Linked DNA regions of Homo sapiens. The protein of the gene in region 3 purifies or fractionates together with the protein of the main gene of each other region. This does not show direct contact. Each region holds a gene or a part of one and is shown on either strand. Other genes may lie near its edges.

The links.
Region 1: the proteins of ZPBP2 (region 3) and ZNF146 purify together in Homo sapiens (affinity purification with mass spectrometry; 3 studies listed by BioGRID and IntAct, with this or other methods). This does not show direct contact.
Region 2: the proteins of ZPBP2 (region 3) and PPP1R1A purify together in Homo sapiens (affinity purification with mass spectrometry; 3 studies listed by BioGRID and IntAct, with this or other methods). This does not show direct contact.

The regions. Positions count from the first base shown.
Region 1 is NC_000019.10:36,213,485-36,217,235, forward strand, and holds the start of ZNF146 (zinc finger protein OZF), read left to right. Parts: upstream 1-1,621; 5' UTR 1,622-1,712; intron 1,713-3,751.
Region 2 is NC_000012.12:54,587,160-54,590,910, forward strand, and holds the start of PPP1R1A (protein phosphatase 1 regulatory subunit 1A), read right to left. Parts: upstream 1,501-3,751; 5' UTR 1,330-1,500; coding exon 1,246-1,329; intron 1-1,245. UniProt on the Homo sapiens protein: Inhibitor of protein-phosphatase 1. This protein may be important in hormonal control of glycogen metabolism. Hormones that elevate intracellular cAMP increase I-1 activity in many tissues.
Region 3 is NC_000017.11:39,871,092-39,874,842, reverse strand, and holds part of ZPBP2 (zona pellucida-binding protein 2 isoform 2 precursor), read right to left. Parts: intron 3,380-3,751; coding exon 3,218-3,379; intron 2,574-3,217; coding exon 2,355-2,573; intron 1,800-2,354; coding exon 1,717-1,799; coding exon of another isoform or gene 1,703-1,716; intron 1-1,702.

The DNA.
Region 1 (3,751 bases), on a different chromosome or scaffold from region 3:
AAGCGATTCTCCTGCCTCAGCCCCCTGAGCAGCTGGGATTACAGGCACCTGCCACCACGCCCAGCTAATTTTTGTATTTTTAGTAGAGACAGGGTTTTATCGTGTTGGCCAGGCTGGTCTAGAACTCCTGACCTCAGGTGATCCACCCGCCTCGGCCTCCCAAAGTGCTGGGATTACAGGTGTGAGCCACCGTGCCAGCCATTAATTTTTTTTTTTTTTTTTTGTACAGGCCAGGCTGGTCTCGAACTCCTGGGCTCAAGTGATCCTCCCACCTCGGCCTCCCAAAGGGCTGATGTGAGCCACCACACCCGGCCCTACATCCACTCCTGAGACACAGGACACAATCACAGACACCTCTATACCTTTCCAGTCACAATATCTTTCCAGTCACAATCACACACCCGCTAAGACACACCCAGTCACACAATCTACTCTCCACTGTGATACAGTTACTCCCGTATAGTCACAAGCCCCACACACCAACACCCACAAATGCCTCATATAGTCACAGTCACACACCCACTCAGGGGACACACGCCATCACTGGTACTTTACGGCACCCAGTCACAACTGAACTTTCACTGTGGACATACACACAGTCACACTCACACAAGCAACCCACACAAGCAGTGGCACCCCACTCCCGCATACACAGCACCACACACATACACACAAACACACACACCAAGGGATACAGGAATACACAAGCGGCGTCACCACACAGTCACAGGCACAGGCAATTGCACACGGCCACAGTGTCACACAACCAAAACCACGCACACACCTTGGAGACATGAATCACAACCGCACACCCGCAGTGGTCACACAGTCACAACTGTACTCACACCCCAGGAACAGGGCGAACAGGCCACATATACAACGGGGACACACGCAGTATCACCCCCGGTCACAAGGACCCTGCACCCCGATACTCTCTATCACACATGGTTACACAAAAACCACCAGACACCCTGGAGACAGGCGGTTACACGTGCACAGTTGCAGACACCCACACCCAGCCACACAGCCACAAAGACACATTCAGAACGGCGCATCCGCAGCCAGCTCCCGCCTGCGCGCACAGATTCGAGGCTCCGGACACGCCCCGGCCCCGCCCAGGACTCCCAGACCCCTCACCTTCTGCCTCCCCTGGTCGCGTCCGGGTCCTTGCGGAGCTAACTAGCTCGCCACGACGTCAAGAACGACGTAACGTCAGGCCGCTGTGGGCTCTGGGAATTGTAGTCCAGAGCTAGATCGGCCACGGACAGAATGGCGTTCTCTTATCTCTGAGTCGGGGCCTGGCTCGTTTTGACATTTTTGCGCCCACGAGTCTTCGGAGAGGGCGTCGCCACTCCAGACCTTCCAGCAAGCTTGAAGTCATCTGACGCTAAAGGACTACTTACCTCAAGAGCTCCATCGTCACAGAAGGAGGCGGCCAAGTTCGCGGGGGGAGGGGAGGAGACAGAGAGTCGACCAGTAAAGCCTCAAGGGAAATGTAGTCCAAGGCCTGAGAAGCGACGTTGCTGGTAATAGAAGGTAATTCAGTACCAGCCTGGGCCTGGCCGCGGTGACCGAGGCGGGCCGCGTCGCGGAGACTTCTGGGAGTGCTTCCTCGCTCTCCGAGTGCGCAAGCGCAGCGCACCGAGTGGACATTTTGGTCTTTGTCCGCGGGTCAGTACGGCCCCTGGGTCCACGTGGCGCGAAAGTAGGAGGTGGGATCTGGGCGTCTCGGGTCGGTCGGACCGGGGAGGTTAAAGGGGAGGATTCCTGATCTTTAGGGGCGCGGCGCGAGGGCAGGGAGTGGGTGTAAGAGCTTCTGGCCTACGTGCGGGGCGGAGATGGGGGCCTCTGAGGCGGGTTTGAGCGAGTGTGACCGAGTTTGTCCTCAAAGTTTGACCTGATGTTTGGGATTGTTGAGTGAATGTGAAACTGGGTGCGGGATTGTGTGTGATTGTGCCTAAGAGGGAGATGTAGGAGACCAGCATTGAGGTATAACGTTTGAGCTGCACTTCCCTTGTCGAAAGTGCTGATAATTATAACGGTGCCATCTTCCTGGAGCGTCTTTTTTACTTGAAAATTGAAGGGGTGGAAAAGCTAAGTGGTGAATAATTTTAAAACGAGTTTTTATATAAAAGCATTTCTTTTTAATTGGAGTGGCATGCAAATCACCGTGACTTTTTTTTTTAATTAAACGAGAGTGTTTCGAAGGAACTTTAGTTTCGGGGTGCCTACTTCAGACTATTCAAATCCCCATCTTTGGGGTACTTAAATAGGGCTGTTAAGCAAAGCCCTAGACTAAACAGCATTGTACGCTTTGAGAAGCAATCCCATATAACGGCGCCCAGGATGAGGGAGTCAACGGTTTTAGGTTAGGCACAGTTATCCTCATTTTTTGAAGAAAGCTTAATTGTTGCAGTGTTTATCTATGAGTCTGGACTAAATCCTAGGTGTCTTAATTCCTTAATGAGTCGAGGCGTTCTCAGGTTGTATGGATTTTGTGAAGTAATGGAGAATGCTACTGACGTCTCCAAAGATGCGTTTTCTAAGGAAATCACCCCGCCCCCGCTGTCGTCATTGACATAGTTTTAAATTACAAAAAGTTAAATAAAGTAATTGGGTACCAAGTTAATATCTATAAATAAATAGCCTTCTAATTTACAAATATCAGTTAGAATACATAGTTGAAGAAAACTAATATTTACAATAGCAGTAAAAAGATAAAGTATTGTGGAAGAAACTTAAAGGTTCAGAACTATTAGGAAAGAACTTTAAAATACTACTAAGGGGCATAACAAATGTGAACAAATAAATATACCATGTGACATTAAGAAGTGTGCGCAAACTTAAGTGAATGTATTAATTTACTGTGATCTTGGTCGGGTGCGGTGGCTCATGCCTGTAATCCTAGCACTTTGGGAGGCCGAGATGGGTGGATTACCTGAGATCAGGAGTTCGAGAGGAGCCTGGCCAACATGGTGAAACCCTGTCTCTACTAAAAAAAAATAAAATAAAAAAATACAAAAATTAGCCGGGCGTGGTGGCGGGCGCCTGTAATCTGAGCTACCGCGGAGGCTGAGGCAGGAAAATCGCTTGAACCTGGGAGGCGGAGGTTGCAGTGAGCCCAGATCTCGCCACTGCACTCCAGCCTGGACAAGAGCGAGATTCCGTCTCAATAATAGTAATAATGTGATCCTAATAAAAGTATGGACAGGCTTTTCTCTTTTGGAACTAGGGGAACTGATCCTAGACTTACTATGGAAAGAGACAAGCTGCAAGAGCCAGTACAGACTGAGAAAGAAAAGGCGTTGAGGTGTGGGGAGATGGGGACCCAACACATTTTAAATATAAAGCCTCAGGCCGGGCTTGGTGGCTCACACCTGTGAGCCAAGGCAGGAGGATGGCTAGAGTCCAGGAGTTAGAGACCAGCTTGGGCGACATAGTGAGATCTCCCGTAGTCCTAGCTGCTTGGGAGGCTGAGGTGGGAGGATCACTTGAGCCTAGGAGGTCAAGGCTGCAGTGAGCAGAGATCCTGGCGACAGCATTCCAGCTTGGTGGACAGCCAGTCCCTGTCTTTTTTTTTTTTTTTTTTTTTTTTTGAGATGGAGTCTCTCTCTCTTGCCCAGTCTAGAGTGCAGTGGCCCAATCTCTGCTCCCTGCAACCTCTGCCCCCCAGGTTCAAGCGATTCTCTTGGCTCAGCCTCCCGAGTAGCTGGGATTAGTTGCCTGCCACCACACCCGGCTACTTTTTTTG
Region 2 (3,751 bases), on a different chromosome or scaffold from region 3:
GAAGTGGTAGGGAGAGTGTGTACCCCTGCCCGCTTCCCTTCACATCAGACCTTATTCTACCAAACAGCTGGAGCAACAAAAATGACAAAAAACACTCTCTCCACCTCATCCCAAGAGGTCACAAAGTTTTTTTCAGGTTGGGGGTGGCCAGCCAGAGCCTGGCAGCTTGTTGAGAGAAACAGAGAACTGACCTTGTGGGAAATTGATATTCTTTAGGAATGGGAATGTCTAGGCAAATGGACAGAGATTACAAAGAGATGGAGCAATAGGCAAATAAGCAAATATTTGGCAAACAAGGAGTAGTAAGGACCACGGGTGGCCACCCTCTCCACACATACGCTCACTCTCACCGAGGCATACACTTGCTCACACACTCTCATACACTGCCCCCTCTGCCAGGCTGCTCTGAGCTAAAAATAGACCAGGCTAGGAGGCTGGGCCAGGGCCCTGGACTCCCACCCCTTGAGCCAAGGCTGTCACAGTGCTTCTCCCTTGCATATTGTTCAGCTTGGACCCCAGCCCCTGGAAAGACTCCACCTCTGGCCTCCCAGTGCTGCTGGCTCAGTCCCACCTGGACTCCCCACTCCAAAGGGCAGGAGTTGGGAATAAGGGCCATGTGCGGAGACTTGAAGAAGGGAGCCTCAGCCTACAACTCGACCACCCCTCTCCCCTCTCCCTGGAGCCCCAGCCCTCTCAGTGGTCCTCAGTCCCTTCCTGTTATCACTTTCGGAGCCCAGCAAGGTGGCCCCCAGTTAGGAGGGGACAGGGAGAGCTGTTTCTCCTCTTCCAACTCCCACCCTTCCAGGCTCCCTCTCCATTACCGACCCCTCCCCAGGCCCCTCCCGCACTGCTGCTGATTCCCTTCAGCGCCACCACCAAGCTCAGAAACTCTAGTGGGGGTTGACTGGGTGGGGGATGCAGGGTTGTTTAAGGAGGGAGGGGTCGTGTCCTCAAGCAGGCCCCCTCCCCCAGGACTGGGGAGGAAGAGAGCGACTCTCGCGGGGCCAGGCATCGAGTGGAGGCGCTCTTCCTTCGGTCAGTCTCAAAGAAGCACAGATTCGAGATGTGGCTCCGACGGTGGGGGAGGGGACAGAAGACCCCCCCCCGCCCCCCGCAAACTGAGCGTTCGTCCTCAAAAGGGCGCACTGCTAAGGGAGGACTAGGCAGGGATCCTGGGTCCCACCAGTCCAGGGGTCCCTCGTCCTTGGCTGGGCGAGTGCCCTGCCGCCCCGCCCTGCTCCGCACCTGCTCCGCCGCCTCGGGGTCAAGGTGCGGCTCCAGCAGCGGGACCGTGAACTGGATCTTTCGGGGGCTGTTGTCTTGCTCCATGGCTGGGGCGGCGGCCGGTGGGCCCGCGCTGCGGCGGGAGGGAAGGCGGCGGGACTCGGGGCTGGGGCGGGCGCGCTCCCTCTCCGCTCCGCTCCGGCCCCGGCCCCAGCCCGGCGCGCTCGGCTCCCGGCTCCCGGCACAGCGCTCCCAGCTCGCGGCTCCGGGGACTCTGCCGCCGCCGATTGGCTCCGCACCCGCCCCTCCCGGCCCCCTCCCCCTCCCCCAGCCCGGAACCTTAACCCCGTCGTGGCTGCACCGGCGGCTGCGGGGGTCACCGCCCCGCGGGCCGCCGAGTCCGGGCGTGGCCCGGGAGCCGTCGTAGTGGACAGCTCAGGCAGATACCTCAGTGTCCTCGGAGTTTTGGGCAGGGCGTTGGGGTGGGGAGTGGCTAGGAAGAACTTCTCCTAGCCGGAGCAGGTTGTTGGGGCTAGGAAAGTAGAGGGGCGCTGCAGGAGAGGAGACTAAACGCGAGAGGAAGATTGCATTTATGATTTTAAAGGGGGTTGTATTATAGAGAAAAGATGGAAAGGGGATTTAGGCATGCAGCAGGAGGGATTAAGGTTAGACTTCGAGAGGGACTTTCCTTTGCAAGGAAAACACTAGGCGGAGGTAAAAACTTGGAGGGAAATACGAAGTCTGCACACCCGTCCTGTGTTCCCTCAGTGCCAGGGAGAGGAAACTGAAGACTTCAGAGGGTCTCCGGAGGGCGCGTTTCTCTCGAAGTGCCTGTGGGAGTGGGTGGAGGGCTTGGGGAGAGAGGACCATCTGGGACTCGACAAAAGGAATAACGATGGTGGGGAGCCAATCCTGCTTGTGAAATCGAGTTCTCTTTCTGCTTGCTAAATTAGGGGATGGTAAAGTAGGTGAAAGGCCTGCAAGGGGAAAATGCCTGGGGAGGGAGAGAGAAACTCCTTTGGTGGGGTGGCTTGTTTACAGATAGGGTTGGTTTCTAATTTCACTATTGGCAGGATACTGAAAACGAGCTGCTGTAACTGAAGGAATGGAGGTTAGACTATGGGAAGAACTGACTAGTTTGGTGGAAGACTAAGATGCCAGTCAATACGAGCCAGTGAGGGAGACAGGATATTCACAGGAGCTGGTGTGCTCGGTCTAAGGACTGGGGATCACTAGATGGGGGAGGGGATGTGCTGGGCACTGGGGAGGGGTAGGGCTGGATGCATCTTTTCGGGAGGAGAAGGTGGAGAGAAGAACTGGGGATGGGGAGGAGGGCACAGGGAGTCCTGGAAGAGGGGAAGGGGTCTGTCTCTTTAGCCTTAAACCAAGCAACTGGCAAGTGCCATACAGATTCATGCCTGGTTCTTGGAGAACCATATGGTCATCTTCTCCTCTAAGGTGTCAGCCTCAACTCTCAGTTGCCTCCTCTCCTGGGCAGCCCTTTCCAGACCTTGATTTCACAAGGCCCCTTCCCCTCTAACCTCACAAAATAACTTGTCCTGCCTTCCCCCCAGCCATATCTTTTTACACATGTCGGGCTCAGTTTTCTCAGGGTAAGGCTGGGGTTATGGGGACCCAGTGGGCCAGCTGGACCTCTGTCTGCAGGTTAACTGGCCCCTGTTTTGCTGTCACCTGGACTCCAGGATTGACTCCTGACACCCAGCCTGCACTTGCAGGGCCCCTTTGCTCTCTGGTGTGGCAGGGCCAGGTGGAAAACAGCTGGTTGGGCTTCCCCGTCTCCATTCCCAACCTTTGCGCAGATCCCCCCACAAGAAGTGACAGTGGAGAAAGAGATCGTGAAGGCCCTGAAGCAGAGAGGATAACGGTTGGGGGCTAGGGAGATACCTGGCTCATTAGGGCCCAGTTGCTTGCTCTGGCCTCCTTCCTACTCACCCCACCTCCTAACCACACATCCACAGAGCAGGATCCCAAATATCCTCTAAATAGGTGACTTGTCTATTCCCCATCCCATTCTACCAGGACCATGGGATGTGAAGCCAGGATTCCCACATCCCTATGTCTGGGGACTCAGGCTTCTCTCATGAGCCTCCATCTCATTTGTAAAACAGACAGAGGATCCCACCTCCTAGGGTTGAGTATCATCTTGGGTAGAGTACCTGGTGCATAGAAGGTCACGGTTAATTGTAGCTGCTGGTTTTATTGTTATTTCCTGGCAGGACGGCAGAGTTGAGGGGTGGTCACCTCTCAGAGTGGTTACCTCTCCACCCCCACCCCAGACATCCAGGCTGCCTAGTCCTCTTTCGTATTCCGTGCTCTCCCTCAAACTTTGGTCTGGTCATGGAAATTCCTCCCCAAGTCTCTCACCCACCCTATGTTGCCTTCTCAAGTCCCGGATTCTCAGAGTCCTTTGTCCTGAAAGCCACGGGTAAGGAGAGAGACCAAGAGAGCTTGAGCTCTGGAGAGATGGCTGATGAGGGGCTGCGTGGGAAGAGGGGTCCCGGCAGCA
Region 3 (3,751 bases):
GGAGGCGGAGGTTGCAGTGAGCCGAGATCGTGCCACTGCACTCCAGCCTGGCGACAGAGCGAGACCCCGTCTCAGAAAAAATAAATAAATAAAAATTAAAATTAAGATTAGGCTGGGCGTGGTGGCTCACGCCTGTGATCCCAGCACTTTGGGAGGCAGAGGTGGGCGGATCACTTGAGGCCACGAGTTCGAGACTAGCCTGGCCAACATGGTGAAACCTCGTCTCTAATAAAAAATACAAAACTTAGCCAGGGGTAGTGGCAGGCACCTGTAATCCCAGCTACTCGGGAAGCTGAGGCACAAGAATCACTTGAATCCAGAGGCAGAGGTTGCAGTGAGCTGAGATTGCACAGCAGCCTGGGTGACAGAATGAGACTCCATCTCAAAAACAAAACAAAATAAAATGAAAAGAAAAAATAAGATTAAAAAACTTGTTTTGAATTATTTGCAATGTCTATCCCATATGTAGATAATTGGGCGTTCATTATATCTAATTTCCATGATCATCAAAGAAAAAGAGCCAAGCAAAATGGAAAGCAAGACTTTTCTTGGCTGGGCGTGGTGGCTCACACCTGTGATCCCAGCACTTTGGGAGGCAGATATGTGCAGATGACTTGAGGTCAGGAGTTTGAGACCAACCTAGCCAACATGGTGAAACCCCGTCTCTGATAAAAACACAAAAAATTAGCCGGGTGTGGGTGTGGTGGTGTGCACCTTTAGTCCCAGTTACTTGGGAGGCTGAGGCAGGAGAATTGCTTGAACCTGGGAGGTGGAGGTTGCAGTGAGCTGAGATGGCCACCACTGCACTCCAGCCTGGGCAACAGAGCAAGACTCCGTCTCAAAAAAAAAAAAAAAAAAAAAGACTTTTCTTTAATCAGCATTATAAACCGATGATGTAAATTTTGGGTTTTTGAGCACAGAATTTAATAATAACTAATTTTAACTAAGTGCTTCTCATAAGCCATGCACAATAACAATTAAGGACATGAGCTCAGGAACTAGACCAGAGAGTGAAGGGATTTTTAAGACTATGTCCTTTGCCTCTGAGGATGGTAGAGGGGAGAGCAACTAGTATGACCAATATAGATATAATTTTGGAAGCACCATTGGCTTAACGTAGGGTGACATGTTTGTGAAGTTGTTCTTTAAGCCACTATTTAATCATCATTTGGGGAACAAAGACCAGGGATCTATCCTTCTGTCATAGATAAAATACATAATACTAACCTTGGGAACTATCTAATATTACAGATGTGCTACTCCAAAATAACACATCTTGATACTCCAGCTCTCTTTTGAGAAAGAAAAAAAAATCACATCTTGAAATAACTAAGAATCTCATAATCTCAGTTTAAAAAACTGAAACCAAAAATCAATAATACTTAAAAAATCAATATTATTAATACTTTATATTCGTTTTTTAAAAAATAATTTTTCCTCCTTAGAAATGATTTTATTATTGATAAATATTCACAAGATGGAGAAATAGGTTTTTAAAGAAACGTTTCAATATAACGAAGTATTTACAAAAATGTTTTAAATAGCTTTATTGATTTTCAAATACTTCCTCCTTGGCTGAGGGAGGAAGATCACTTGAGCCCAGGAGTTTGAGGCTGCAGTGAGCTATGGTCGCACCACTGCACTCCAGCCTGGGTGACACCCTGTCTCTAAAAAAAGAAAAAGACAAATACTTCTTCCTTACCATGAAATTCTCACCTGGAGGATATTATGATTAGTGGTATCTTCACAGTCAACAGATCCATTGCAAGCACCTTTCCACCCCGGCGCAAAAGGATTAACTGAAGAGAAAAAAAATGATAGACTCACAAAGGGATTCTGAAAAGTTCCAAACATTTCAATAAAGGTCCAAGTGCTGAATTCCATGTGCATGCAGGCACATGTTTAGTCCAGCTATCTAATCCTAGTAATAAAACAAGGTGCACAATTTGAATAATTTATACTTGATGGTTTCACTGCATCTGGGGGCTAATGTAAGTAACTACAAGGCTTTAAAATGAATAGAAATAAATTTGGTTTGATTATTCACTTTTACTAAGTTTTCAAAAATACAATTTAAAATTCTGTAAGAAGTTATAAGTGAAATATTAGCTGCATAAAGGCTGTATTAATAAAATATTGATTTTTAAGAAGCAACAATATGTCATATTTGAAAGTAATTAATTAGTGTGTTAAGTTTTAAAACCATAAACAGGCTAAGGTCAACTACATACTTTAGTGCTTAACAAACATGTAAGACCTATTACTTTTAAAATATCTTATATTAATATGGTAATTTTGTAATCTATTATGGTTCAGGACTAAATTCAAAATTAAAGAAATTTTAAAAATTTTACCTTGAAATGCTATAAATAGCTCATGTATGAGGCCATGTTCTGGAATTTCAACAGAATGGCATTTATATGATGGCTCTATGACATGGCATGACAAATCAGAAATTAGACTATCCAAGATTTTCTTCAGCACTCTAAAGAATACATCATTGTATCTCCCTATACAAGACCTTGTGGTAAAACGTACAGCCATCTGATATGAATAATCAGGTTCCCGATAGGCTTTAAAAAAAAAAGAAAGATGAGAGTGAAAACAATCGTACCTAGCATTAATTTCCTCTACCAAACAATTTTCAAATACTATGTAATACTAAATCCCATCAATCTTGCAGTCAGCATAGAAACATAACGTTTTATCAGTTAGTCCTCACAAAAATACATAAAACTATTAACTTTAATGAAAAATGTTATTTTCATCTGATACATTATCTACTTGGTACAACAAGAGAAATGGCTTCTGTGGGTTGGCTATACAGATAACAGTATCAAGAAAAAGAAAGACTTTTTGGGGAGGGCCTTAATTCACAGAAATTGTCATTGCTGTCAGCACAACCCAGTGAAAGGATCATTAACTTGCTTTTATAGAATTAAAGATCAGTTTTTAAATTACCTGCTAAATTGTGATAAAGTAGATGCGCTTACATATCTAGATAGAGGCAAGTAGGGAGCTGAAAGAAGATTATTTAGGATAAACTATCTTGATGTCAACTTAAGAGTTTGCTTAGTCAAATACATCCCAAAATATTTTGTAAGTCATAATTGGTGACAGTCACCTATTACAGACTCATTTTCATTAAATGAAGAAACCATACACTTAATTACGATCCAAACTAAATGTATAAGTTAAAATGTGCCTAAATTCTTACCAAAGACCATAAAGTCATATCTCTTTTTGACTGTTTTTTCTTCTTGAGTTTCTGCTTTAACAGTCTTATAAGAAAGAGTACATGTGTAAAGTCCAGACAAAGGCTCCAAAAAATCTTTCACCATCAGCTGTCCAGTTTCAGTTATATTTATTCTATTATTTCCTAAACAGAATAGTAAATTACTTATTTAACATATAACATATCAAGCATTATTTAGTACACTTGGAGTTACAAATAGATACAAAAATTTTAAAAATTAATGAACTATCTCAACTTTAAGGATCCCACAAAATCTTAATTCTGTCATATTACTCTGTGGAAGACTACATGAGATAAGTACACTTTTGAAATATATTTTGGTTTTCTTTGTTTCTTGGCATCTAGTTTCAATTGGTTCATCCCAGTAATTCAGAAAAAGAGATTGCACTGCTCTGTACTACTATACAATTTCTTCAGACAAGAAACTAATTAATAATACTTATGTTCCAAGGCACTCTAACATGATGAAAAATTATATATTAGTTATTTCATCTC